Homo sapiens: one gene and its partners. Each later gene encodes a partner of the first gene's protein in a complex. Links are inferred from orthologs where the notes say so. Each region holds a gene or a part of one and is shown in the gene's direction. Other genes may lie near its edges. The genes, in order: MYO5A, MLPH, SPIRE2 and RAB11A.

What was found.
Region 2: the proteins of MYO5A (region 1) and MLPH are in contact, whole or in part, in a crystal structure (PDB 4KP3), measured with the Mus musculus proteins. The link is inferred for Homo sapiens from one-to-one orthologs. Residues at the interface, in NP_034994.2 of Mus musculus: Asp1524, Val1527, Arg1528, Leu1531, Thr1532, Ile1535, Asn1536, Lys1539, Ser1570, Gly1571, Leu1588, Thr1589, Asn1590, Phe1591, Asp1592, Leu1593, Ala1594, Glu1595, Tyr1596, Val1599; in NP_443748.2 of Mus musculus: Lys184, Lys186, Arg187, Leu188, Leu189, Ser190, Phe191, Arg192, Asp195, Phe196, Glu197.
Region 3: the proteins of MYO5A (region 1) and SPIRE2 are in contact, whole or in part, in a crystal structure (PDB 5JCY), measured with the Homo sapiens proteins. Residues at the interface, in NP_001369276.1 of Homo sapiens: Asp1551, Val1554, Arg1555, Thr1559, Ile1562, Asn1563, Lys1566, Ser1597, Gly1598, Leu1615, Thr1616, Asn1617, Phe1618, Asp1619, Leu1620, Ala1621, Glu1622, Tyr1623, Val1626, Asp1629, Leu1630, Gln1633; in NP_115827.1 of Homo sapiens: Arg404, Pro405, Arg406, Val407, Leu408, Leu409, Lys410, Ala411, Pro412, Thr413, Leu414, Met417, Glu418, Met420.
Region 4: the proteins of MYO5A (region 1) and RAB11A are in contact, whole or in part, in a crystal structure (PDB 5JCZ), measured with the Homo sapiens proteins. Residues at the interface, in NP_001369276.1 of Homo sapiens: Ile1660, Gln1661, Trp1738, Met1742, Arg1745, Tyr1746, Ser1749, Gln1750, Glu1753, Arg1756, Gln1777, Gln1780, Val1781, Lys1782, Lys1784, Met1795, Glu1818; in NP_004654.1 of Homo sapiens: Arg33, Glu35, Ile44, Gly45, Val46, Glu47, Phe48, Ala49, Thr50, Gln63, Trp65, Gln70, Tyr73, Ala75, Ile76, Ala79, Arg82.

Annotation. Positions count from the first base shown.
Region 1 is NC_000015.10:52,371,009-52,380,253, reverse strand, and holds part of MYO5A (unconventional myosin-Va), read left to right. Parts: intron 1-345; coding exon 346-432; intron 433-520; coding exon 521-629; intron 630-3,695; coding exon 3,696-3,907; intron 3,908-4,793; coding exon 4,794-4,950; intron 4,951-7,890; coding exon 7,891-8,130; intron 8,131-9,245. UniProt on the Homo sapiens protein: Processive actin-based motor that can move in large steps approximating the 36-nm pseudo-repeat of the actin filament. Can hydrolyze ATP in the presence of actin, which is essential for its function as a motor protein. Involved in melanosome transport.
Region 2 is NC_000002.12:237,551,848-237,556,664, forward strand, and holds the end of MLPH (melanophilin), read left to right. Parts: intron 1-489; coding exon 490-590; intron 591-1,249; coding exon of another isoform or gene 1,250-1,276; exon of another isoform or gene 1,277-1,384; intron 1,385-1,718; coding exon 1,719-1,745; 3' UTR 1,746-3,475; downstream 3,476-4,817. UniProt on the Homo sapiens protein: Rab effector protein involved in melanosome transport. Serves as link between melanosome-bound RAB27A and the motor protein MYO5A.
Region 3 is NC_000016.10:89,864,514-89,872,103, forward strand, and holds the end of SPIRE2 (protein spire homolog 2), read left to right. Parts: intron 1-3,675; coding exon 3,676-3,703; intron 3,704-5,053; coding exon 5,054-5,169; intron 5,170-5,536; coding exon 5,537-5,759; 3' UTR 5,760-6,806; downstream 6,807-7,590. UniProt on the Homo sapiens protein: Acts as an actin nucleation factor, remains associated with the slow-growing pointed end of the new filament.
Region 4 is NC_000015.10:65,865,051-65,872,490, forward strand, and holds the start of RAB11A (ras-related protein Rab-11A), read left to right. Parts: upstream 1-4,440; 5' UTR 4,441-4,535; coding exon 4,536-4,575; intron 4,576-7,440. UniProt on the Homo sapiens protein: The small GTPases Rab are key regulators of intracellular membrane trafficking, from the formation of transport vesicles to their fusion with membranes.

The DNA of each region.
Region 1 (9,245 bases):
ATGTTGGCCAGACTGGTCTTGAACTCCTGACCTCAGGTGATCTACCCTCCTGGGCCTCCCAAAATTCTGGGATTATAGGTGTGAGCTACCTCGCCCAGCACACTCTTATGAGTTTGTGGTTTGAGTTGCAGGTAATGTTTACAGCTCTTTATTTTTACTGCTTATCATCTCCTCCCCATTCTCTCATAGTTTTCCATTTTGATCACTGCTCCGACTTCTGAAAGCTTTCTTTTCTGATTTATCCATTTTGCTCTTACGAAAGAATTTACACCCTGACTGAGGAGAGTAATTTGTGGCCACCAGCCAGGTTCTTTGTGGACTAACAGCTTTGATTTTTATTTGTAGGTTTGATGAGAAGAGGGCAGTGCAGCAGCTGAGAGCATGTGGTGTCCTGGAAACCATCCGAATCAGTGCGGCCGGTTTCCCCTCACGGTGAGCCTGGCATTTTTCAGATGTAAGGGATCCTAATGGGAGAAGATCCTAGTTCTTTAAGTAAACTCAGATGGTTTTCTTTTAATAGGTGGACTTACCAAGAATTTTTCAGCCGCTACCGTGTCCTAATGAAGCAGAAAGATGTGCTGAGTGACAGAAAGCAAACATGCAAGAATGTGTTAGAGAAACTGATACTGGTGAGAATGATTTCGCTTACCGTCATCTGAGCAGAAGGCCTTGTGGTTCTGACCTTGGAAAGCCCCGGGAACTTTTGTATAACATTTTACTAGTCCAGATCATTTCGGGGTGGGATCAGAGAGGGGCACACTACTGTGTTTAGGATGCTGGAACTAGCGAGGATGATAGTCCACCGTCAGGAGGCAGAGCTGTGAGGCCTGGACCCACATTTGAAACACATTCTTCTTAGACAGCTTGATTATTATTGATAAAAGTGTACCTAGTACTTACATCTAGAAGACACCAGGCCAAATGCTGTGTGATTAAGAAAAAATAAAGCTTGTTCTCAGGTAATATAGTCTTACTTGGAAAGTAATACTTTTTAAAGACGAGTATAATATTTAACTGTAGTGTCTATATCAAATGCTGAATGAATGGAACAAGAAATCAGGGGATGACAAAGCGACGTCCAGCTATGGGAAGGAGAGATTTCATCAAAGAGGTGTGTTTTGAGTCAGGCCCTGAGAATGGGTAAGGTTATGCAAAAATGGAAGGAGACTATTATAAGAGGGAGTAAGAGCAGGGTAAGCATAGGGTTTGCTCAGAAAACAGTTTTTTGCAGTGTGAGATTTGTGTATGGGACAGTAGAGAAATGGTTAGGAAATGTAGGTTGGTGTTACAGAGAGTCTTGCAGACCAGGCTAAAGAGTTCTCCAACTTTACTGTGACCTGGAATGCTTGTTAAAATACAGATTGCTGGGCCCCGCCATCAGAATTTCTGATTCAGTAGGTCTGAGGTTGGGCCCAAGAATTTGTATTTCCCGGGTGATGCCGATGCTGTCTGAGGACTATATTTTGAGAACTACTGATCTTGGTCTTAGAGAATTAAAGATTCATGAAAAGTTTTTAAAATAATATTTTCACTTGGTTAACACTATCCTAGATGGAGTACCTCACTTTGAGCTAATTGATCATAATTACTAGCTGTGAACTAAATGTGATGCCTTTTTTTTGTTAATAATATTTTTTCCTTGAAAGAGCTAAGGCCACTTCCTCAGCAATGCTTTTTTTTTTTTTTTAACTGGGGCTTTTTGAGTTTGCCCCAATTCCCTTCTTTTTTTTTTTTTTTTGAGACAGTCTTGCTCTTTCACCCAGGCTGGAGTACAGTGGCATCTCGGCTCACTGCAACCTCCGCCTCGTGGGTTCAAGCCATTCTCCTACCTCAGCCCCCCCAGTAGCTGGGATTATAGGTGCACACCACCACACCCAGCTAATTTTTGTATTTTTAGTAGAAACAGGGTTTTACCATGTTGGCCAGGCTGGTCTTGAACTCCTGACCTCGTGATCTGCCCGCCTCGGCCTCCCAAAGTGCTGGGATTACAGGTGTGAGCCACTGCGCCCAGCCTGCCCAATCCCCTTCTAACCTGTGTTCAGGTGGGAATGTAGAGCAGAAAGTAGGAACAGGCCTATTCCTGGTCCTCTCACCCAGGCCATTTCAGGCCTGGATCAGGGCTTTGTGGGAATTTAGTTAGGCAGAGGAGGCTGAAAGATGGAGGCAGGGTTGGTGTGAGGTGTGAAGCGGGATGCGGGTAAGGACCACTTTTCTAGCTAGGTTTCCAATGTAAACTTTATTGATTTAAATTGAAATAATTGTAGATTTTTTAGATATATGTGGATGTGTCAGATTTTTTGGTTTCATATATGAGATAATATGAGATATCTACTCATAGGGAAAAATGATTTTCTCTGTTTTCCCTTAGACTTTCAGATCACATGGCCAAGCATGGTGGCTCACGCCCTTAATCCCAGCACTTTTGGAGGCCGTGGCGGGCGGACTGCTTGAGGCCCAGCGTTTGAGGCCACCCTGGCCAATATGGTGAAACCCTGTCTCCACTAAAAATACAAAAATTAGCTGGACGTAGTGGTGTTTACCTGTAATCCCAGCTACTCAGGGGGCTGAGGCAGGAGTGTCGCTTGAACCCAGAAGGCGGAGGCTGCAGTGAGCCGAGATTACAGCACTGTACTCCAGCTTGGGAGACAGAGCGAGACTCATCTCAAAAAAAAAAAAAAAGAATTCCAGGTCACAGTAATGATTCTTACATATAAATTCCATTCTTTGATGCAAGAATGATTAATGATTTGCATACTTCTAGATAAGGTGAATCACAATGTAATATAAATTATTATGTTTTTGTAAAAGGAGTTTGAAAGGATTTTTTTTTTTTGAGACGGATTCTTGCTCTGTTGCTAGGCTGGAGTGCAGTGGCGCGATCTTGGCTCACTGCAACCTCCACCTCCTGGGTTCAAGCAATTCCCCTGCCTCAGCCTCCCAAGTAGTTGGGAATACAGGTGCATGCCACCATGCCCGGCTAATTTTTTGTATTTTAATAGAGACAGGGTTTCACCATGTTGGCCAGGATGTTCTCGATCTCCTGACCTCATGATCCGCCAGCCTTGACCTCCCGAAGTGCTAGGATTACACACGTGAGCCACTACACCCGGCCAATTTGTAGGATTTTAAACATATTTATGGGGTTTTGTTAGTTTGTTTTCAGATATTATTGATAAAGCCAAGAGCTAACTGTTTAGAAACATAACTCAATATGAATACCCAAGGATTTTGGTTTTTGGTTTTTGAATTTTATTTCATAAACGTTTCTTCCTGCCTTATTCTTCACACTGGTGTTTTTGTCCCTTCAGCTTCTCATGGAATATACAGCCCGCTGTAATCCTTACAACCTGGGTCAGTCAGAGAGAGTCAGCATCTCCATTTCCTTGAGATGTTTAAAACACAAACAAGCAAATAATAACTGCCTATAACCCACAACCAAGTTTTGGGCCTCAGATAATAATTCCAGGTAGAATAATTCTGGAAAATAACTCTTAAACTGCAGTTTTTCTTAAAATCCCTTCTATTTGCTCAACTTGCATAGGATTAAAAATCTGGCTCCATTAGTTAATTGTGATGTAGCCCAAGTTTTAGCTAATAGAGTCATTCCTTTACTGATTCTGCTTTTAGACATTTTTTCTTTTAAATTTCACTTATATGATTATTATTTCTGAATATACAATTTCTTCCAAAAATAGGACAAGGACAAATACCAGTTTGGTAAGACAAAGATCTTTTTCCGTGCCGGTCAAGTGGCCTATCTAGAAAAATTGAGAGCTGACAAACTGAGAGCTGCCTGCATCCGGATCCAGAAGACCATCCGAGGGTGGCTGCTGAGAAAGAAGTACCTACGCATGCGGAAGGCAGCCATCACCATGCAGAGATACGTGCGGGGCTACCAGGCCCGATGGTAGGTCTCCTGGGGACAGAGTAGAGTGCCCATCTAATTCACTGTCCAACCAAGGACAGTTTTGACTGGTCACCATAGCTGAAAAGATAACACCTCACCTTTTCTTAGTTCCAAGGGACAACAAATTAACTCATAGGACAGCTAAATAGAATAAAATTTCACTCAGCCTTATGAATGATTCAGATTTATCTTCAAAACATTTACAAACTGCTGCTTACTTATGTCCTCAAAATTTTTATTTTTGATACTTTTATATTGGGCTTGAGGAAATCATGTATCAATTAAAACAGTCGTGAATATGAGCTAGGTAATAATGACTTCATTGTATAATTTTTGGGAGCAATTAACTGAGAGGGTCTGGAAGAGAATTACACTTTAGTGTGATTACTTATTAGTTTAATTTTAATTGAGAAGTATAAGTAGAACTGAATTAATCATGAGCTTATAGCCTAACAAAATCAGGAAAAATATGGTAGATGAATAATGGCTAGATCCAAGAAAGCTGGTGATAACTAAGTATGAGATTACTGTGTATGTCTGTCTGTTCTATAAAGAGGCATGGCCTGGGGTAAATGGATCCTGTTGTAGAAAGAATGAATTTTTGTGAATTTTGCTTTCTTGTAAAATCTGGCAATGTGGGCCATCCTACTTTCCAGAGTTAGGGAGGGCTCAAATGAGATAATAAATGCAAAAATACTTTGGGAAACTATAAATTGCTATACAAATGTAAGTAAATATAAATGTTGACTTAGCATGCACATTATTAGAATAATACAATGGAGGTACTATTTATGCCTAAAACAGTGACACTCTTTAAGTTTCTCTAATATGTATTCCTGCATTTTTTTCTGATTACTGACAACATAATGTTATTTTCTTTGGCCAGCTATGCTAAGTTTCTGCGCAGAACCAAGGCAGCAACCATCATTCAAAAGTACTGGCGCATGTATGTGGTCCGCAGGAGGTACAAGATTAGACGAGCTGCCACTATCGTTCTTCAGTCTTACTTGCGAGGCTTCTTGGCCAGAAATAGGTATCGCAAGGTGAGGCATTATTTTCAACTTTGTTTATTCATTCTATTAGCATTAACCAAATTTCACATCTATACAGAGTACCACAGGGGCTACAATGAAGGTAGGAACTGTATGGGGACAACCAGCTATTGAAATGCATATTTATTTATTTTAAAAAATTCTTTTTTAGAAATAGGATCTCGCTCTGTCACCCTGGCTGGGGTGCAGTGGTGCAGTCATAGTACACTGCAGCCTCAAACTCCTGGCCTCAAGCAGTCTTCCCACTGTGGCTTCCCAAAGTGCTGAGATTATAGGTATGAGCCATTGTGCACATGCCCAGCCTGAAATGCATTTTAAAATACTAAATAATCACATACAGTTATTAACAAAACAATGGGAAAAAAACTTTTACCTCCTTCTTTCTCTTTGTTTATATAATTTGAAAAAAAAAGTATGTTAGTTTACTGTGGCTGCTATAATAAATTATCACAAACTTGTTACCTTAAAACAGCCAAAATTAATTCTCTCAGAGTTCTGGAGACCAGAAGTCCAAAATCATTATCAATGGGACAAAATCAAGTTGTCAGCAGGCTGCTCTCCTTCCAGAAGCTCCAGGGGAGAATCCATTCCTTGCCTCTTGCAGCTTCTGGTGGCTGCCAGCATTCCTGTGCTTGTAGCCACATCAGTCCAGTCTCAGCCTCTGTTTTCACAGCATTTTCTCTTCTGTGTATCTGACTTGACTTCTCCTATCTGCCTCTTATAAGAATAATTATGATAGCATTTGGTTCCACCCATGTGATCCAGGATAATCCTCCCATCTGAAGACCCTTAACCTAATCACATCTGCAAAGGCCCTTTTTCTGAATAAATAGCATTTGCAGGTTCCAGGGATTAGCACCTAATTTCCTTGGGGCCCCCTATTCAGATGACTACAGAGAACTTTGAATAGATAGAATATATGACAAACAGGTTAAAGGTTATTCCAAGAATGAGACAACCTTGGAAGAATTTACCATGGTGAAGAGGAGGCAAATTATAACATTAATGTGGTTAAAATTGTATTGACAGATACAATGCTCCAAAAGTTTTTGACAAATAATCTTACATCTAGCAATAATTAATGGGGTCACCAGAGTAGTCTTAATTATCACCTGTGACCATTGATGAACGATTTTTATCTCTTTCATTTTGGCAAGGTTTGGAGTCTATCCTACAGGCTATATTTCAAATCAGTGAGAAATACAAGCCTGGATATTAGAGCTCTATGGACATCACCATTAGAAGGAGCATTAATGGGGTGATTTGGGTCTCTAAGCACAGACAGTATATGGGTGTGACCTAGGCCCTATTTATTTATTTATTTATTTATTTATTTATTTTTATTTGAAGTGATTTTAGACAACAAAAAATTCGAAACTGGTGAGGCTTGAATGAGTGTATTTAATAGCTGTGTTTTGAAGATAGCTACTCCAGATCTTTCTGCTCACCCCTCCTTTATGTAGTCTCATGCTCTTTCTATATAAGCGTGAGATTTTAGGGAGGAAAGAGGTTTGAAGTTGCTTTTCAGATACACCAAACTAGTTACCTTCCTGTGTTCCTCACTACTTTCCTTAGGAACATCTGAGCTGGGTTTTGAGGTCACTGGTTTAGCAGTGGCAGCCTCCGGCCAGCTCAGGCTCCCACTGTGACTGGACAGGGTGGAAGGTGGTAGCGTAGAGGCTTGCTCACATGTAAGCCAACAGCCATCACATTAGTGCTCCTTCTAGCTGTATTTCAGGTCCAAGGTTCCCCTTCATGAGATTTGGAGTGGGGGGGTCTTAAAGAGAGTACAGGTGTTGATTAATTTCTCTCACTCATGATGAAAGTGAGATTGAAAATGGAAGCTCTGATTAAATGCTGTTTCCATTTGACTAAAATTACAAAAATGGACCCATGTCCAAAGTTACATGGGAGAAGCAAATGGAACAGGAAAATTGGCATTAATAGTTTTATTTATCCAGTCACTGTGCCTGGCTACCTCTTCTTAAAATTCAAGAATTTCTTCTCCATCTTTCCTAGAAAATGTTTACACGGTGTCTTTTTGGTGCTCTTTAGCGACAACAAATTCATCTAATAAGGCAAACTTTTGTTTGTTTATAAGTTTAGGGAAATATCATTTTTTTTTAGGAAATGTAACATAAAATCAAAAGTAAGATTAGTTTGTTTCACATCTTTTTACTTTTACCTTTCATTTTAAAGCCCCATCCCTCCTACCTTTGAATCCCAAAAGTGGATCCTTGCTACATTTGAAATAGCAATGGAAAATCCTCACTAGAATGGTATTCCTCAAATGTGGTAAACAAGAGTGTCATCTTTTAGTTTCTAAAAAAAAAAAAAATCAATAAATCAGTACAAACTTTTTAGTACCCCAAGTGTTGGCCTCTACAGACAGTTTGCTGCCCATACCCCGTGTCCTCATGCACGGGCCTAATAATGCATAGTGAGGTGGTATCAGCAGTCAGGGTGGTGGGGATATCTCTTATTTTAGTAGCACATAGTTTACAGGATGCCTGGTTCTGTTAATTTTATAGAGGATCATCTGTTGCCAACAGAAATCATATACTAATAAGAAACCTAATGTATTTTTTCTTTCTTTTTATAGTTGTTTTTCTTTTGGTAATCTGGTGCTTTTTATTTAGACAGCTTCCAACTCTATATTCTGCTTAGAATTATACACATAATATGTGCATATGACACATTTTTATGTATGTTTCTGAAATCACCTTCTAAAGTCTACTTTTCAAATCACTTTTAAAAATAATTTTGTAGCCTCCATATATCTGTGATAAGTATAATCTACATAGTACATTGTCAATTCAACTTTTATGTCTTTTCCTCTAGGTAATGTGTGGATTTTCAGCCCGACATAGATTGATAATCATGAGTGTAGTCCAGGGTCTTGACATTGCTTGCCCTTATCCTTTTCTGCAGATACTCCGTGAGCACAAAGCAGTCATCATTCAGAAGCGAGTCCGGGGCTGGCTGGCCCGCACACACTACAAGAGGAGCATGCATGCCATCATCTACCTTCAGTGCTGCTTCAGGCGGATGATGGCCAAGCGTGAGCTAAAGAAGCTCAAAATCGAGGCTCGCTCAGTGGAGCGCTATAAGAAGCTGCACATCGGCATGGAGAACAAGATCATGCAGCTGCAGCGCAAAGTTGATGAGCAGGTGTGTTTCACAAAGGGGCCCTGAGAGTGGAGTATGCCTGAAGAAATCCACCAGGATTATTTTCAATATTGTTTTTCTTTGACTTTACCCTTCGGTCTTAGTAAAAAGTAAAATTATGACCGTATTTATTTCCATAATGGGCATGGAAGTACTTATGAACTCATAAGGTGGATCACAATTGCAAAAACTAAGGCAGGAAGTTATTATTATTATTATTATTATTATTATTATTATTATTATTATTACTATTATTTGAGACAGGGTCTCACTCTGTCGCCCAGGCTAGAGTTCAGTGGCATGGTCACAGCTCACTGCAGCCTCAACCTGCTGGGCTCAAGTGATCTTCCCACCACAGCCTTCTGAGTATATGGGACTACAGGCACGTACTACCACACCCAGCTAATTTTTTTATTTTGTAGAAACAGGGTCTCATGTTGCCAGGCTGTTGCCTCAAGCAATCCTCCTGCCTCAGCCTCCCAAAGTACTGGGATTACAAGCATGAGCTACCATGCCTGGCAGGAAATTATTTTTGAGAACAGAGATCTACTAATGCTTCAAACCTTTATGACCAAGAGTCATATTGTATGTTACTTATTTTTCAAACACCAGCTTGAACCAGGCATACTGTATTTTGTACTTGGCAATGCTCTATCAAAATTATCATTTATTTTCATGTGGTATCATGTTCATTTTACAGATGAGTTGGTTTAGCATTGAAATAGCAAAAGCATCAGGAAAATGTTGATGCTTCTGATGAACTTGCAATCTGTTGCAGAGATAAAAGTTTGTTTGATTAAAGATAGTTACTAATATTTTAGCACATGTAAATGATATAAAGGTAATTAAGAATATAAAAATGCTAAGGAGAGCAAAGCAAAACAGGGATCAGAATGAAATGGGATGGAAGATTTTCTGAGTGGGAGGGAGAAATTTTGAGGTAGTAAACATAAAGATTTGTGAGAAACGTGTGTGTGTGTAGGGAGAGGGTTTTTTTTTTTTGTTTTTTGTTTTAGGACAGATTCTCACCCTGTCACCCAGGCTAAAGTACAGCAGTGCAATCACGGCTCACTACAGCCTCAAACTCCTGGGCTCAAGTGATCCTCCTGCCTCAGCCT
Region 2 (4,817 bases), on another chromosome or scaffold:
GTGAACCTGTAGTCCCAGCTACTTGGGAGGCTGAGGCAGAAGAATCACTTGAACCCGAGGCAGAGGTTGCAGTTAAGCCAAGATTGCGCCACAGCACTCCAGCCTGGGTGACAGAGCAAGACTTTGTCTCAAAAAAAAAAAAAAGAAAGAACAAAAAAGAAAAGAAAGTCAAGGAAATGCGAAGACCACACACCAGTGCAGTGTGATGGGCCTTTCTGCTGCTTCATTAGTGTGAGGATTTCCAGGGCCACAGTGAGGAAGAATGTTAATGCCAGTGCCAGAGCAAAGGAGAAAGAAGTTGGCAAAACTGTTGATTTGCATGACAGCTGAAATGTAAATACTTTTTAAAAAATATGTGATGTGGAAGCTTCTTAAAAGGGGATATGTCCATTTTTTTCTACCTTTTAAATTTCTGAGGAGGCCAAGGCACTTGTTTGGGCTAAGTATGTGATTGATAAAGCACCATCCCTCTTCCTGTTTTCCCCAAAGGTAAAGATGATGATTCTTTTGATCGGAAATCAGTGTACCGAGGCTCGCTGACACAGAGAAACCCCAACGCGAGGAAAGGAATGGCCAGCCACACCTTCGCGGTAAAGTTTTCTCTCATTCTCTGAGGAGTTTTTAAAGTTCAGTGACCCGTCAGATTTATGTATTAAAATTAAGTCTTCAGAGCAAAGAAAATGGAGATAAACAAAACAAAGATTCAGACCTGAGAATCAAAGCAAAAAGTAAAGTAAAATCTTTGCCAACGAGGGCTTGAAAATCTAAATACTTTGAAATTAGAATAATATCTTGTGTTTTAGAGCTTTAAATTTTCAAATATCTGCTGTCCACACACCCCATTGGAGGAGGACCTGTGTCACTAACCCAAATTTGTAGCTGAGAAAACAGAGGCAGAGAGAGGTTAAGTAAAAAACCCCAAGAGAGTTCACCTAATATTGTGAAGAAAGCAAACCCAGGGTTTCACTAACTTGTCCATGTGTGTATGTGTGTGGCTGCGTTCACCCCTGTGTGTGTGTGTACTGTGTGCATGCCTGTGTGTTTGTGCACACCCATGTGTATGTACCTGCATACACACCCAAGTGTGTGTGTTACCACAACGAAAGCGCAGATTTATTGAAAAGAAAGTGCACTCCACAGAGTGGGAGCAGGCTAGAGCCAGTGGCTCAGGAGCCTGGTTACAGCATTTTCTGGAGTTTAAGTGCCCTCCAGAGTTTTCCCATTGGTTACTTGGTTATACTCTATGCAGATGAAGGAGTGGCCCCAACCAATGTGATCAGTCGCAGGAGGCAACCAATCAGAGGCTGAAGGGAAGTTACAAAGTTACACATGAAGACTTGGCCGATGACCAGTCTGGTTGGTTGCGGGAGGGGACCAATCCGAGGTACTTTCCATTTTCATCTGAGATGCAGTGGAAAGGGGGTATAGCAAAGGGAGTAGCTGCTGAACCTTTTGTTCCTCAGGCATGGAGAGGTGGGGTTTTCATTTTGATTCAGTTCTAGGAAGTCAGCACGAATTGGCCTTAGGTTCCCTGCCTCCAGACCCTATTCTCTTGCCTCACATGCATGTGTGCACAAACGTGTAATCTAAATTTGTGTCTACAGATGTGCACATCCATGTACACACCTGTGTATTTGTATGTGCATGCCCATGTGTGTCTGTGTTACATGCCTGTGTATGTGTGTGCTTATATGTGCATGTGTGTTTGTACTTTACAGAAACCTGTGGTGGCCCACCAGTCCTAACGGGACAGGACAGAGAGACAGAGCAGCCCTGCACTGTTTTCCCTCCACCACAGCCATCCTGTCCCTCATTGGCTCTGTGCTTTCCACTATACACAGTCACCGTCCCAATGAGAAACAAGAAGGAGCACCCTCCACATGGACTCCCACCTGCAAGTGGACAGCGACATTCAGTCCTGCACTGCTCACCTGGGTTTACTGATGACTCCTGGCTGCCCCACCATCCTCTCTGATCTGTGAGAAACAGCTAAGCTGCTGTGACTTCCCTTTAGGACAATGTTGTGTAAATCTTTGAAGGACACACCGAAGACCTTTATACTGTGATCTTTTACCCCTTTCACTCTTGGCTTTCTTATGTTGCTTTCATGAATGGAATGGAAAAAAGATGACTCAGTTAAGGCACCAGCCATATGTGTATTCTTGATGGTCTATATCGGGGTGTGAGCAGATGTTTGCGTATTTCTTGTGGGTGTGACTGGATATTAGACATCCGGACAAGTGACTGAACTAATGATCTGCTGAATAATGAAGGAGGAATAGACACCCCAGTCCCCACCCTACGTGCACCCGCTCTGCAAGTTCCCATGTGATCTGTAGACCAGGGGAAATTACACTGCGGTCAAGGGCAGAGCCTGCACATGACAGCAAGTGAGCATTTGATAGATGCTCAGATGCTAGTGCAGAGAGCCTGCTGGGAGACGAAGAGACAGCAGGCAGAGCTCCAGATGGGCAAGGAAGAGGCTTGGTTCTAGCCTGGCTCTGCCCCTCACTGCAGTGGATCCAGTGGGGCAGAGGACAGAGGGTCACAACCAATGAGGGATGTCTGCCAAGGATGGGGGTGCAGAGGCCACAGGAGTCAGCTTGCCACTCGCCCATTGGTTACATAGATGATCTCTCAGACAGGCTGGGACTCAGAGTTATTTCCTAGTATCGGTGTGCCCCATCCAGTTTTAAGTGGAGCCCTCCAAGACTCTCCAGAGCTGCCTTTGAACATCCTAACAGTAATCACATCTCACCCTCCCTGAGGTTCACTTTAGACAGGACCCAATGGCTGCACTGCCTTTGTCAGAGGGGGTGCTGAGAGGAGTGGCTTCTTTTAGAATCAAACAGTAGAGACAAGAGTCAAGCCTTGTGTCTTCAAGCATTGACCAAGTTAAGTGTTTCCTTCCCTCTCTCAATAAGACACTTCCAGGAGCTTTCCAATCTCTCACTTAAAACTAAGGTTTGAATCTCAAAGTGTTGCTGGGAGGCTGATACTCCTGCAACTTCAGGAGACCTGTGAGCACACATTAGCAGCTGTTTCTCTGACTCCTTGTGGCATCAGATAAAAACGTGGGAGTTTTTCCATATAATTCCCAGCCTTACTTATAAATTCTATTCTTTGAAAAAATTATTCAGGCTAGGTAAGGTGGCTCATACCTATAATCCCAGCCCTTTGAGAGGCCAAGGTGGGAGAATTGCTTGAGGCCAGGAGTTTGAGACCTCCTGGGCAACATAGTGAGATCCCATCTCTACAAAAAACAAAACAAAAAAATTACCCAAGCATGATGGTATATGCCTGTAGTCGTACCTACTTACTTAGGAGGCTGAGGCAGGAGGATCACTTGAGCCCTGGAGGTTGGGGCTGCAGTGAGCCATGATCGCATCACTATACTCGAGCCTGGGCAACAGAGTGAGACCTTGTCTCTTAAAAAAATTAATAATAAATAAATGAAAATAATTCTTCAGAGTTCCTTTCCTAGCAGATGGCTATTCTGGAGATGTGTAGTGGAAGCTGCATACAGGCAGGTCAGGGATCCCTGAGGCTAGTGTACCCCAACCAGTACAGCTGCTGGCTCTTTGTTTCCAGCTAAAGATTGACAGAAGTCAGTGGTTTCTCTATGACTCCAGAGGGAGATTAGAGACAAGCATTTAAAATATTTCTCCAAAGTTTTATCCTCCAACAGTCTTATTTATAAGGGGAAAAAGAAAAAATTTTAGGAAGCGTTGAATGCACAGATCTCCCAAAGATGCTTCTTACAAATGAGCTATGAGTGTGCAGCAAAATTGCACTCCCCAGATAATCCAGTATCCAACATATTGCAATATAGCACCCAGATCACCAAGGGATACCTTGCCTCACTGCAGATTATTGGGGTGAAACACAATTTGACAGGTGTAGCTCCCAGCTCTCAGGGATCAAACCAACCATGCATTACAGTGTTGCAGTTTCACTGATTTTATGTCAAGCCATTGTTTCTGTAAGTTCCAAGGATTTTCACTTTCCAACAGCTCTATCCAAAAGAACCCACTTTACTGGGGGCCAAAAACCCATCCCCAAAAGAGTAATAGTAATGGTATTGTCACTTGCTGGGCTTCTGAGAGCCCAGCTAAAGCTCCACTTTAGCATGCTGGTGACAGCCAAGTAATCCTCACATATTCACAATGCTCATAACTTCAAAGTTATTCTTATAGAGAATATTTATTACATATGAATTTTTTTTATTTTATTGGGATAAAACAGAAAAGATAGATATGCAAAAGAAAAAAAATACATAAAAAAAGAATCATCTACCCACTAGCAACCACTGCTAAGTCCTTGCAGACATTGGTTCACGTATTAGCTTTTAATAAAACTCCCACAAGTTAATATACTAGTAGGTGAGTAAAGCCCATTCCAAACATGACCGCACACCTATATCTTCCCAGGAAAGAGCCAGCCCCAGAAATAAGTATTTTACCCATGTATGCTACCCATATTCCCCTGAAAATATCTACAGCAAAGTCTTCCCAGAGACAGCCTTGCTGTCTAAATGAACAAACTGCTCAGTTATTTCCAATGAACACACCTGCAGCTCAATGGCATCTGGGCTCAGAGTTCCAAGGACATGGCCATGCTGGGGAAAGGAGTATTTTGCTACATCACCACAGACACTTGTAACAGTCTATGATTGTTAATTTTATGGATCAAATTGGCTCAGCTGTGGTGCCCAGATGTCTGATCAAACACCAGCCAAGATGTATCTATGCAGGTATTCTGTAGCTGTGATTAAGGTTTAAATCAGTAGACTTTAAAGCAGATAACCTGCCATAAAG
Region 3 (7,590 bases), on another chromosome or scaffold:
AAAGGTTTATTCTCTGGCCCTTTACACAAAAAATTTACCTTCCCTTGTTCTAAAGATCTGAAGGGACGGTGCTCAGGGGCAGGAATGAGTAACATCGGTTTCCACCGGCCACAGGCAGAAATGTCATAATTCACAGGGCACTAACTGGAATGCACACAAAGGACTCGCCTCACTAACGTGGAGTAAGTAGCCCAAAGTGATTGTTGCTCTAGGCCTGACTGATACATCATAAAAGCAAGACCTGAAAGGATCAAACTGTTCACAAGTATCTTAACTGATTCTGAGAACAAAGCTCAAGAATAAGAATTTTTTAAACATCAACAAAAAAACAAACCAGTACTCAGCAAGATAAAATGTGTGGCATGCAAAAAACAAGACAAAATTAATTACAATGTATTGTGGGTTTTGTAACACGTGTGTAAGTAGTGTTGATAACAGCAGTTAGCATGAAGGTCAGGGAGAGGGGAAAATTGGAAGTATACTTTTTTTCCTTTTTTTTTTTTTTTTTTTTGAGAAGGAGTCTCGCTCTGGCGCCCAGGCTGGAGTGCAGTGGCACGATCTTGGCTCACTGTAAGCTCCGCCTCCTGAGTTCCCACCATTCTCCTGCCTCAGCTTCCCGAGTAGCTGGGTCTACAGGCACCTGCTACCACTCCCAGCTAATTTTTTGTATTTTTAGTAGAGATGGGGTTTCACCATGTTAGCCAGGATGGTCTCGATCCCCTGACCTCAGGATCTGCCCACCTCTGCCTCCCAAAGTGTTGGGATTACAGGCGTAAGCCACCGCGCCTGGCCAGAAGTATACTATTTTAAGGTTCACTATGGTAAGGTGAATCACTATGATAAGGTATAGTAAGGTATTATACACGCTATACAAATATTACTTAAAGGTAGACTGTGATAAGTTAAAGATGTATACCATAAGTCCTAAAGCAACCACTAAAATAAAACAGTTACAGCTAATAAGCCAACAAAGGAGATAAGATGGGACCATAAACAGTAATTAATCCAAAAAAAGGTAGGAAAAGAAGGAGAACAAACAAATGAGTCAAAAACAAAACAAATAGCAAATGACAGCCTTAAACACAACTGTATCTCGCATCACATTAACTGTAAGTCATCCACACGACCCAAGTAAAAGTTAGAATTTCCCAGACTGAATAAAAAAGTAAGGCTGGGCCGGGCGCGGTGGCTCACACCTTGATCCCAGCACTTTGGGAGGCCAACGCTGGCAGATCACGAGGTCGGGAGATCGAGACCATCCTGGCTAACACGATGAAACCCTGTCTCTACTAAAAATACAAAAAATTAGCTGGGCGTGGTGGCGGGTGCCTGTAGTCCCAGCTACTCGGGAGGCTGAGGCAGGAGAACTGCTTGAACCTGTGAGGTGGAGGGTGCAGTGAGCCGAGATCGCGCCACTGCACTCCAGACTGGGCAACAGAGGGAGACTGTCTCAAAAAAAAAAAAAAAAAAAAAAGGTAAGGCTGGATATGGTGGATATGGTAGCTCATGCCTATAATCCCAGCACTTTGGGAGGCTGAGGTGGGAGGATCACTTGAGCCAAGGAGGTCAAGGCTGCAGTGAGCTATGACGGTGTCACTGCACTCCAGCCTGGGTGACAGAGCAAGACCTGTCTGGGAAAAAAAAATCACCTAATTTTATCTGTAAAATTATGTATATTTCTGTTGATATATGCTTGGAAAAGCCTGGAGGATGGAAACCATTACTAGCAGGGATCACTTCTGAGCATGTGGTGTCTACATTTTAATTCTCTCATGTTTGAATTTTTTTTTTTTATTTTTTTGAGATAGAGTTTCACTCTTGTTGCCCAGTCGGAAGTGCAATGCCGCGATCTCAGCTCACTGCAACCTCTGCCTCCCAGGTTCAAGTGATTCTCCTGCCTCAGCCTCCTGAGTAGCTGGCATTACAGGCATGTGCCACCACACTTGCTAATTTCGTATTTTTAGTAGAGATGGGGTTTCTCCATGTTGGTCAGGTTGATCTCCAACTCCCGACCTCAGGTGATCGCCCACCTTGGCCTCCCAAAGTGCTGGGATTACAGCGGTGAGCCACCACGCCCAGCCTTGAATTTTTTTTTTTTTCTTTTTTCTTTTTTGAGATGGAATCTCACTCTGTCACCCAGGCTGGAGTGCAGTGGCACAATCTCGGCTCACTGCAAGCTCCACCTCCCGGGTTCACGCCATTCTCCTGCCTCAGCCTCCCGAGTAGCTGGAACTACAGGTGCCCGCCACCAGGCCTGGCTAATTTGTTTGCATTTCTAGTAGAGACGGGGTTTCACCATGTTAGCCAGGATGGTCTCGATCTCCTGACCTCGTGATCTGCCCATCTCGGTCTCCCAAAGTGCTGGGATTACAGGCTTGAGCCACCGCGCCCAGCCTTGAATTTTTTATAAGAAGGTATTTATTTTTGAAATCAGATATGGGAATTAAAACAAAATTGAATCACTGTTTAAAACTGAGCATCTCAGTTGAGGCCCCTCTAGCTTCCATGGTGCTTTTATGGTGAGTAGTGTCAGGTACACACCAATGTCTACACGTCTTCTTAGAAGGAATCTTAGATGTCTTTCCAAGACAGTGTGCAAGTTTTTTTTTTGTTTTTTGTTGTTGTTGTTGTTTGCTTTTTGTTTTTTTTGAGACAGAGTCTCTCTCTGTCACCCAGGCTGCGGTGCAGTGCCATGATCTCGGCTCACTGCAACTTCCGCCTCCTGGGTTCAAGCAATTCTCTGCCTCAGCCTCCCGAGTAGCTGGGATTACAGGTGCCCGCCACCATGCCCGGCTAATTTTTTGTATTTTTAGTAGAGACGGGGTTTCACCATCTTGGCCAGGCCGATGTTGAACACCTGACCTCGTGATCCACCTGCCTTGGCCTCCCAAAGTGCTGGGATTACAGGCGTGAGGCATCGCGCCTGGCCGACAGTGTGCAGTTTTTAAAGACCCTTGTAGGTTTTTGTTTTTAAACTTTCCAAAAGTATGTGACCCATCATGGCTTGGTTCAGAAAGACCCATCATGCCTTGGTTCAGAAACAAAAATCTGCTTAAGAGGGACTTTTACCACCATTTTTTTTTTTTTTTGAGACAGAGTTTCGCTCAGTCCCCCAGGCTGGAGTGCAGTGGCGTGATCTCAGCTCACTGCAACCTCCACTTCCCAGGTTCATGCCATTCTCCTATCTCAGCCCCCCAAGTAGCTGTGATTACAGGTGCCTGCTGCCACGCCCAACTCATTTTTGTATTTTTAGTAGAAACGAGGTTTCACCTTGTTGGTCAGGCTTGTCTCAAACCCCTGACCTCAGGTGATCCACTTGCCTTGGCCTCCCAAAGTGCTGGGATTACAGGCGTAAGCTACCACATCTGGCCCACCACCACTATGTTTAAACCTTACTCTATATCCTACCACTTGGCAATAGAAAACTTGGCAGGAGAAAACTCCTGGAGCCATCCTTCCTGAGAGAATGCCAAGGAGCACATATATTTTGGGTGGATACCTAAGTATAAAGAAAAGCAAGATTTTGGAGTAAAATAAAGTACTGAAGTAACCAAGCATCAGGCAGAAGGCAAGGATGGTTTGACCTCGGATGCGTGGAGGCCGGGATGCGACTGTTTCTCAGCTGTTTGTGGGCTTCCTCCCTGCTGATGCTGCATTTCCTCTGTTCCCTTCCAGAGCCGTCTGCACTTCCTGTAGCATAAAGGTGAGGACCATGTGGGATCTCTGGGGTCTGAGCAAGGCAGATGAGGGGCTCCACTGGCTTTGATTGGATGTGTTGGATGATGCTGCCTCACCAGGCACCTCATCCATTTCCTTTCAGGCAGAATCCATTCCTATACTTTCCAAGATAGTGTGCAGTTTTTAAAGACCCTTACAGGTTTTTGTTTTTAAACATTGCACGTTAGTAGCCTCGTGCCAAAAAACCCTTCACTTCCCCTCTAAAAGTCCTACCTTCTTACATTCTATAACTTTTTGGGTGTTTTAGGAGGGGCTTCTTATTGCAGTTGAGGTGTGTGCTTATGTGCAGGTGCACAGAGGTAAAGGGATCCTAACATTTAAAAGTATGTCAGCTGGGCACGGTGGCTCACACCTGTAATCCCAGCATTTTGGGAGGCCAGTGAGGCTGGCGGACCACTTGAGACCAGCCTGGCCAACATGGTGAAACCCCATCTCTACTAAAAATACAAAAAAATTAGCTGGGCATGGTGGCACGCACCTGTAATCCTAGCTACTCAGGAGGCTGAGGCATGAGAATTACTTGAACCCGGGAGGTGGAGGCCACAGTGAGCTATGATTGTGCCACTGCACTACAGCCTGGGTGACAGAGACTCCGTCTCAAAAAGACAAAATACAAATAAAAGTATGTCACCAGCCAGGCGCGGTGGCTCATGCCTGCAGTTCCTGCACTTTGGGAGGCTGAGGTGGGAGGATCTCTTGAGCCCAGCAAATTCAAGGCTGCAGTGAGTATGGCTGTGCCTCTGTACTCCAGCCTGGGCAATAGAGCAAGATCTGTGTCTTAAAAAAAAAAAAAAAAAAAAAAATATATATATATATATATATATGTTACCCCTCAGGCCTCAGTTCAGAAGCAAAACTCTGCTTAAGGAGTACTCTTACTACCACTATTTTTAAATCTTACTCTACATCCTGCCACTTGGCAATGGAAAAACTTCCACCTCATCCATGTTAAATGTTGATTATGTGCAGGGTAAGGTGGCAGGTCCCGTATAGTATAAAAAGGGAAAGTTCTTGCCCTCTAAGGAGCCCCTGTCCAGATGAGCAGGAAACGTGGCAGGTCCCGCATGGTATAAAAAGGGACGGTTCTTGCGCTCTAAGAAGCCCCTGTCCAGATGTGCAGCAAGCAGGAACCCCGTGCCAGTCTTCAGCCAAAAGGCACAGAGGAGACATCGGAGAGCACAGGGACAGAGAATATTCTCCAGGAAGCCCTGGCTGCCACGCAGGTCCCAGACTGGGGAGGGAGGTCCCCTAGCACTGAGTGTACCTGAATGTCTCTGGTGGTGCCTGGTTCATACCTCCTCCCTCTGTGCTGCAGATGAAGATGCCTTCTAAGAAATTTGGACACATCCCTGTCTACACACTGGGCTTTGAGAGTCCTCAGAGGGTATCAGCTGCCAAAACCGCGCCAATCCAGAGAAGAGACATCTTTCAGTGCGTTCTTCGCCTTGCTGCTGATGTCACTGTGGTGGTCGGGCGTGAAGAGGAACTTGGGAGCTGGGGTGGAGGGGGCTGGCTTTGTCTGTTTGCTAGGACACCCCAAGGAAATGGAAATGCAAGGCAGAGACGGATCGTTGTGTAGGGCTCTGGGAGGCTGAGCAGTATGAGATGGAAACTGGACTTGGGTGGTCAGGGAACAGTCTGCTGAGATGAACACTGCTAGCTGTGTTTGTTGCCTGAGGGCCAAGGGGAGGCCTAGGGTGAAAGGCAGCCAGGAGGGGGCTGTGGCATGCACAAGCAGGGAGGGGGGTGTGGCACCCTGGCTGGCTCCTCTCCCTGAGTGCCCTCTCCCACTTCCCAGGTCTCTGCAAGGGCCACAGTGGCAGAGCGTGGAGGAGGCGTTCCCCCACATCTACTCCCACGGCTGTGTCCTGAAGGATGTCTGCAGTGAGTGCACCAGCTTTGTGGCAGACGTGGTGCGTTCCAGCCGCAAGAGCGTGGACGTCCTCAACACTACGCCACGACGCAGTCGCCAGACCCAATCCCTCTACATCCCTAACACCAGGACTCTTGACTTCAAGTGACAGCCCCAGGTGGCCAGGCCTCCAGGAGGCACCAGGCAGGCCCTGTATCAGGCTAGGACGCTCTGAGCTGTGCATGTACATATATACATATATAGATACATTTATAATATATACACACAGTCTATATATTTATATACACTGTTTCCTGGCCCCAGAGCTCATTTGGGTTCAGGCGCACTTCAAAACCCTCCCTGGGGGAGGCTGTTTCTTCTCAGGATTCCTTGCCAGGGAGGAAGGGGAGGGAACAGGGTGGGTTTTCTCACTGAAGAGAGAAAGCAGAAGGTTCTAGATCCTGGCACAGACTGCATCCCATGTTCCCATGCTCTTCTCCGTCCCCAGGAATGCGAACGGCAGTTTCCCTTCCCCAGTGGACGTCTAGGTGGGGACAGGGTATCTTGGCTCCCAGCTGGACCAGAGTGCCCTGCTTGCCTCTGCTCTCCCTTTGTGGGGACTCAGGCAGCAGAGGCATCTGGGAAGTCTCTGAGTAGGCAGGGTCCTCCTGGGAGGCACCCCCACCTGTTTGAAAGGTCTGGCCAGGCGTGGTGGTTCAGGCCTGTAATTCCAGCACTTTGGGAGGCCGAGGAGGGAGGATCACCTGAGGTCAGGAGTTTGAGACCAGCCTGGCCAACATGATGAAATGTTGTCTCTACTGAAAATGCAAAAATTAGCCAGGTATAGTGGCAGGAACCTGTAATCCCAGCTACAGGGGAGGCTGAGGCAGGAGAATCGCTTGAACCCGGGAGGTGTAGGTTGCAGTGAGCCGAGATTGCACCACTGCACTCCAGCCTGGGCGACAGAGCGAGACTCTGTCTCGAAAAAAAAAAAGGTCCGTGCCAAGCTGCTCCCTGCCCTTGCCCTTTCCCTTTCCCTGGGGTCCAAACCACATGTGTCCTGCCTCTCCTGGCCCTACCACATTCTGGTGCTGTCCTCACTCGCCCCTGGCCCAGAGGCTCCTGAAGATGCTGGGCGGTCCTGGCACAGGGAGGAGCAGCTCTGTAAATCTGTGCACATGGCCACTCTTGGCCTAATAAAGGAGGTCTCACAGTCTTCTGTCTGGGATGTGCGCTGAGGATTCACCCAGCATGGCATGTTCTCCCAAGGTTGAAGCTGGGCTTGAGGGGCCACCTGCCTTCCAGGACGAGGAAAGGCCTCCTGGCTTAGAGTCAGGTGCCCACCAGGCAAGGGCTCCAGGCCTGCTCTGTCCACGCAGCCCTGGCTGCCTCTACCAGCTTCGTGGTCCTGGCCACCATGGTCAGGGCTGCATGCGGACGGCACAGACTACTGCCCATCAGCTCCTCTGGCCACACCTGCTGGCCTGGGGGGTACTTTGGTCTCATTTCCCAGATCCGTATTCTCGTTCTCCAGGGAGAGGATCCACAGGGGCAGGAGGTGTGACTGCAGGCTCTAGACAGGCCCTGTGCCGAGTGCTGTCTGCTCACCTGCGCCCGGCTCAGCCTGTTAACGGGGCCCTGCCCTGCTCCTCCGTGACGTTCTGCCGTCATCTTACCTTACAGATGAGGGAACTGAGGCTCAACGAGGTCAAAGAATTTGGCCAAAGATACACAGCTCACCCAGAACTTTGACTCCAGGCTGTAATGCTAGCCGTGGGGCCTGGAGGTCAGAAGGGACAGGACTTGTAACTGATGGGCCTGCGGGAGAAAATACTCCTGTCAGCTGGGGTCCAGGAAATCCAAACACACAAAATTAGAGCCCCCAGTAAAAACAGCCAGCTTCTAGCATGCGTGTAAGCATTTCACGGACTCTCTGGCCTGTATTTTTATTCCTGTTTAAAAATAAGAAAACAGGCACAGAGAGGGTCAGGGAACTCCTC
Region 4 (7,440 bases), about 13 Mb from region 1:
ACATTTTTGTTTTTTTTTTGGAGACAGAGTCTTGCTCTGTTGCCCAGGTTGCAGTGTGGTGGTATGATCATGGCTCATTGTAACCTTGAACTCCTCGGCTCAAGTGATCCTCCCACCTCAGCCTCCTGAGTAGCTGGGACTATAGGTACATAGGTGCCATCATGTCTGGCTAATTTCTCCATTTTTTGTAGAGATAGGGGGGGTCTCGCTAGGTTGCCTAGGCTGGTCTTGAACTCCTGGCATCAAGTGATACTCCTACCTTGGCCTCCCAGGCACAAGCCACCATGCCCCATCTAAAAATTGTATTGTGAAATAAACCTAATACTATTACAAAAGTGCATAAAACTGGTATGTAGAGTTTAACACACAGTTATAAAGGGAACAACCCTGTAAAAATCCTTTGAGTTAAGAAATAGAACACTGAGGCCGGGCGCGGTGGCTCACACCTGTAATCTCAGCACTTTGGGAGGCCGAGGTGGGTGGATCACTTGAGGTCAGGAGTTTGAGATCAGCCTGGCCAACATGGTGAAACCCTGTCTCTACAAAAATACAAAAATTAGCCCGGTGTGGTGGTGCATGCCTGTAATGCCAGCTACTCAGAAGGCTGAGGCAGGATAATCACTTGAACCTGGCAGGCAGAGGTTGCAGTGAGCCGAGTTAGTACCACTGCACTCCAGCCTGGGCGATAAAGAGAGACTCCATCTTGAAAAAAATAAGAAAAAAGAAAGAAATAGAAGAGTGATAGGTTTATTTAACAAATGGAAGCCACTATGGAAGCTTTCTGTGTCAGGCCGGTGGCCCCCAGGCTCTGCTTTATGGGATACTGACGGGAGGAACGTCTGTCCCTGGGCATTCTTCCTGAGACCTAGGGAGTGAGTTCGCTTTCTTCAAATGAGCTAGGACAGGGAGGTGAGGATCATGGCACCCTGCCCCTTTCCCATCATAGGCTCTGGCCTCGCATCTGGCTAATTCTTAAAATAATAACTCATGGTTCTCAACTTTGGTAACTATTAACATTTTGGGCCAGATAATTCTTTTTGATGGGAGTGCTATCCTGTGTGTTGTAGAACGTTTAGCAGTATCCCTGGTCTCTACTAGATACCAGTAGCACTCCCAAGTAGTGACACTAAAAATGTCTCCAGATATTATCAAATGTCTCTGGGGACCAAATTGACCCGTTGAAAATCATTGCATTTGGCCAGGTGCAGTGGCTTATTCCTGTAATCTCAGCACTTTTGGAGGCTGAGGTGGGAGGATCGCTTGAGCTCAGGAGTTCAAGAACAGCCTGGGCAAAGATGGCAAAACCCCATCTCTACAAATAATACAAAAATTAGCCAGGTGCGATGGCGCACACCTGTAGTCCCAGCTGCTTGGGAGGTGGAGGTGGAGGTGGGAGAATTGCTTGAGCCCAGCATATGGAGGTTGCCGTGAGCTGACATCGCACTACTGCACTCCAGCCTGGGTGACGCAGCAAGACCCTGACTCAAAAAAAAAGAGAAAAGAAAATCAATGCATTCATAAATATTTATTATATGCCATGCATGATATTAACAGCTATACATTGTTACTTAATTCCTTCTTCCTGTTTGTCCCCATTTTGCAGGTAAGAAACTGGGATTCAGCAGGATTAAATTATTGAAATTGACACAGCTTTAGTGAATGGCTGAGCTGAAGTATAAACACAGACTTATCAGTCCTCACTTTGTTTTTAACAAACATGTAAAGTTACCTCCCCAGATGTGGAGGGTGAGATATATTTCAGGTCTTGCTTCTCCCCCATAGTCTAAGGCTAGGCATTTCTAAATTTATAATTCCAGGCTTTTTACTAGAGAGTTCCTTTTGATTTTCTTACCAACTGTACTAGTCAGGGTTCTCTAGAGGAACAGAACTAATAGGATAGACACATATATAAAGGGCAATTTATTAAGTAGTATTAAGTCACATGATCACAAGGTCCTACAATAGGCCTTCTGCAAGCTGAGAGGCAAGGAAGCCAGTGCGAGTCTCAAAGCTGAAGAACTTGCAGTCCAATGTTCGAGGGCAGGAAACATCCAGCACGGGAGAAAGATGTAGGCTGGGAGGCTAAGCCAGTTTAGCCTTTTCATATTTTTCTGCCTGCTTTATATTCGCTGGCAGCTGATTAGATGGTGCCCACCCGGATTAAGGGTGGGTCTGCCTTTCCCAGCCCATTGACTCAACTGTTTCTGCTTTGGGAACACCCTCACAGACACAACCAGGATCAATACTTTGGATCCTTCAATTCAATCAAGCTGACACTCAGTATTAACCAACACACCATTTTTATTAGTCATGCTTGAGACTAAATTAAACATTAGTGTTCTTTTTTTTTTTTTTGAGGAGTCTTACTCTGTCACCAGGCTGGAGTGCAGTGGCGCAATCTCGGCTCTCTGCAACCTCCATCTCCTTGGTTCAAGCAATTCTCCTGCCTCAGCCTCCTGAGTAGCTGGGATTACAGGACCTTAGATAAACTTACTATCACTTTATAGCAGTAGAGAAAGCACGGAAATTGGCACTGTATTTGTTTTCTATTGCTTCTATAACAAATTACCACAAACTTGGTGACATAAAACAACACAAATTTATTGCTTAAAGTTCTGTAGGTCACAGGTCTGACAAGTGTCTCATTGGGCTAAAATCAAGTTGTCAGCAGGGCTGTGTTCCTTCTGGGGGCCTTATGGAAGAATCTGTTTCCATGCCTTTCCCAGCTTCTAGAAGCCTCCAGATTCCTAGGCTCCTGGGCCCTTTCCTCCATCTTCAAAGCCAGCAAGGGCAGATTGAGGTCTTTTCAAGTCACATCACTCTGACCTCTTCTGCCTCCATTTTCCACTTTTTTTTTTTTTTTTTTGAGAACGAGTCTCTCTCTGTTGCCCAGGCTGGAGTGCAGTGGCGTGGTATCAGCTCACTGCAACCTCCGCTTCCCGGGTTCCAGCAATTCTCATGCCTAAGCCTCCAGAGTAGCTGGGACTACAGGCACCCACCACCACGCCAGACTAATTTTTTGTATTTTAGTAGCGACAGGGTTTCACCTTGTTGGCCAGGCTGGTCTTGAACTCTTGACCTCAGGTGATCCACCCACCTTGGCCTCCCAAAGTGCTGGAATTAAGGCCTGAGCCACCGTGCCCAGCCCATTTTCTACTTTTAAGGACCTTATGACAACACTGGGCCCACCCAACTAATCCAGGATAATATCCCTAATTTAATGTCAGCTGATAAGCAACCTTAATTTCATCTGTAACCTCAATTCCCCTTTGCCATGTAACCTAACCTATTCAGTCTCCAGGAATTGGGAAGTGGACATCATTGGCAGGGGGCATTATTCTGCTTGTTATAGGCATACTTGCCCACAAGTCTAAATCGAGAGTTTGCATATAGGAGGTAGGAGGTGTGACAATAATTGGATAAAGGCTTTTCTGGAATGACAAAATTCTCTTCAAATACAGGGAGGCCCTGCGACATGATATCTGGCAAATCACTTGAGTCTTAGTATCCAAACTTCCGCTAAAATGGAAATTACCATCCTTTGCTTGGCATGTTAAATGAAATACTTATGTAAACGGACTTAGATTAGAGGCCTACAAATAGGACTCAAGTTCTTGATGAATCTTGATGAGGAGGGTGGGCGAAGTACTCTAAATGAAAATGAGATAGATTGCGAGATTTCCGGAGAGGAGTGAGTGACAAGCGCCTACCCGTGCATGAAGCTGGAGGTAGAAAATTCCAGCAAAAGGAATTTTCAAGTTTCACTGAAGCTTTTGAATCAAGGCTTGAAAGCCCAGGGTTAAAAAAAAGGCAGTGAAGAAGCTCATTAAGACAACCCCCCGCCAGGTAGCAGATAGCACCTGAAATGCAGTGGGAAATTTGTGAGGTCTTCATAGGCAAGGATTAAATTTTACATCTCCATCTTAAGATGTGTCATAGTTGTTCAATTACTTAGTGACCAAAAAAGTGAATTAAAGATGTTGTCAAGATTAAAAAAACAAAAACCAATGCAGGTTCCACCGAGATTTGAACTCGGATCGCTGGATTCAGAGTCCAGAGTGCTAACCATTACACCATGGAACCGCCACGCATGTGTAGCTGCCTTCGGCTGTCTAATCCTCAGAGAACCCCGCCCCCATCCACAAACCCACCACTCACAGGCGGTCCCGCCTGGTTCCAGCGAGCCGCTTCCGGCACGGTAGCTCGAGAAATGAGCAAGCGGCCACTAAGACTATGGTAGCTAGGAGTTCCAGGACTCAGTTTCCCCTTTGAGCCTCCTTTAGCGACTAAAGCTTGAAGCCCCACGCATCTCGACTCTCGCGCACACCGCCCTTGTTGGGCTCAGGGGCGGGGCGCCGCCCCCGGAAGTACTTCCCCTTAAAGGCTGGGGCCTGCCGGAAATGGCGCAGCGGCAGGGAGGGGCTCTTCACCCAGTCCGGCAGTTGAAGCTCGGCGCTCGGGTTACCCCTGCAGCGACGCCCCCTGGTCCCACAGATACCACTGCTGCTCCCGCCCTTTCGCTCCTCGGCCGCGCAATGGGCACCCGCGACGACGAGTACGACTACCTCTTTAAAGGTGAGGCCATGGGCTCTCGCACTCTACACAGTCCTCGTTCGGGGACCCGGGCCACTCCCGGTGGACCCTCGTGCCGGCCACCCCTGCACTGATATAGGCCTCCCTCAGCCCTTCCTTTTTGTGCGGTTCCGTCTCCTACCCAGCTCAGCCTCTTCTCCCCCGCTCAGACAGGGGTCCCCATCACATGCCGCTCTCTGAGCGACCTCTCCATAGGCCTTCGCTGGCCTCAGAGCCCCTCCCTGCGTGTCCTTCCCCTGGCGGACTGCCTTCTCCCACATCGTCGAATTCCTTTCCCCGGGTTCTACGGCCCCGCCGCTCCTCCCACCATCTCTCTTTTCGGGTGTAGCGCCCCCTCCCCCTCGGCGTACACCCTTCCCAGCTCGCGTCCTCTCCCGAAGCCCCTCTGACGGGTTCTTCGCTTCCCTCTTGGCCTTGCCTTCGGTGCAGACTCCCATTACAGGTCTTTTTCTTATCTGCCCTCTTTCCCCCCTCGAGCGAGCGTCTCTTCTGTATCTCCCCTCCACTTGGACGGCCGCCCCTCTAAGCTTCTCCCATCCCGGGTCCAGGACCCCGTAAAATCTGAGCGGGCCAAGGGCCTCCGCCCCCACCCTCCGCCCCGCGGTTCTCGCGGTCCTTAACCTTCTCTGACCGCTCCCTCTCCCACTCCCCATTTGGCAACTCTCTCTACCTTCCCTCCCCAAATCGTGTTTAGAGCTCCCTTGTCTCCGTTGCGACCTGGGTGGTGGGAGGGAGGGTAAGAGGGATCGCCCATCACCCACTCGCGCACTTGTCGCAGTGACCCGGCAGGCTGACATTACTTCCCACCTAGCCTTTTCTTTTCTTGCCCTCCCTACTCAGTGGCACCCAACCCGGGATAACTCTTTACTCGGTTCGCGAGATGAGGTTGCGGATGGGTGGTGGCTGTTATCCTTGCCAGACCTGAAGGCCTGGTTCCTGAGCAGGAAAGGTTGTGCGCTGCACAAATACTAGCTTGCTTTATCTCTATGAACTGGTTGCTTCCTGCTGCAACGCTGGGAGGATCCAACAGGAAGGGAAGAGCCCTAGTTAGCCACATACCTTTCCCAAAAGGTTGGGGGTGGGAGGAAGTTGTGTGCTCTTTTGGTTACATTAAATATTTATTATAAGATACGGAAACATGTAGTGCCCTTGGACAGAACATATTGGAGGGTCAGGGTTGGTTAGAAAGAATTGCTTATTGGTTGAGTCCGGAAGGAATCCGGTTTTTTTTTTTAATCAACGAAGATAAAGGGTACATTTTTCAATGAGAAGAGAGTACAGTAGATGCTTTTTTTGTTCAGTGAATGCACTCTCACTCTGATGCTCTTTCTCTGCTCCTGAATTGGGAAGGTAGCCATCAGTAGTGTGCCGAACAAAGATCATTACCACTGAGGAAGAAGCCATTGCTATTAAAGCTTTACTGTGGAGGGTGGAGTTTCAAGAGTGTTAAGCATGGTGACTGTTTCTGTCTTTGCCATTGGGTGCTAAGAATGATTGACTAAACCAAGCAGGAAAGATTTCTTTGCTTTCCCAATACTTTGCAAATCTTGTTATACTAACTAGTCTGCTGTTATACTCTTATCATCTCTTACTCCTCTGACTCAGAATATTCTACTGTATAGGGTGAATACTTTTGGTATCCACCCTCCCCCTCCATACTGGAAAGTACTTTCAGGGTACTTAGTTCATTTTACAAATACAAAACTGAGGCCTGGATTACAAAAAGTATATGACAGCATACCTTTTGCCGAAGGTATCTGAGATGATGTGAAACTATTTGAATCTCTTGAGACTTTGGGGTTAAAGGTTAGGTTTGTGTTTTGAAATATGGTATAATGGTAGTGTGCTTTTATAAAGGTTGTCTTTGAAGTAATTAATTCAGAACAAGATAGACCGTCAGGGTATTTCTCCTGTTTGGTTTGAACTTGAATGTTGGTTATACAAGGTCCTTTTATTTTTTAACAAAGAATATTAAATATTCTGAATTGGCCTAAAGTATTTTAACTTTTTGATTAGACCATCCTTCTAGCAACAATTGAGAGCACTGAGCTTTGGAATCACGTAGACCTCGGTTTAGATCCTGACTCAGGTCTTATATTTACTTTATGACCTTGGAAAAGTTAACTTTTCTGAGTCTCAGTTCTCTACTTTATAAAAAGGAAAATACCTGCCTCTTAAGATTGTGAGAATTAAATAATGAGACTGTTCGTAAAATTTTAACCATGAGGACTCAATAAATGGTAATAATGTGAAAGAAGTTACTGTGGTTTTGTCAGTTTTTTTTTTTTTTTTTTTTTTTTTTTTTGGAGACAGGGTCTCGCTCTGTCCCCCAGGCTGGAGTGCAGTGGCACAATCAAGGCTCACTGCAGTCTCGGCCTCCTCAGGCTCAGGTGACCCCCCGACCTCAGCCTCCCTAGCTACTCTCTAGCTCCTAGGAGTAGCTGAGACTACAGGAGCGCGCCACCACGCCCGGCTAGTTTTTTGTTTTTTTGTAAAGACAGGGTTTTGCCATGTTGCCCAGGCTGGTCTCGCACTCCTGGACTTAAGCAATCCACCTTCCTCAGCCTCCCCAAGTGCTGGGATTATAGGCGTGAGCCACTGTGCCTGGCCTTTGTCAGTTTTTTGAACCTTAAATGTAGGTTCAACTACAAGAGCATTTAAATATTATTAAAGAAAATAAAACTAGGAACTTCGAATGCATTTTATGTTTCCATGGGTTATGGTTTCATTTTGTTGTGCATTTTGCTGTTTAAGATAGGGTGTTAAAAATTCTGCTAAGGAGGATTTCTACTTTTTTTTTTTTTTTTTGAGATGGTATTTCGCTCTTGTTTCCCAGGTTGGAGTGCA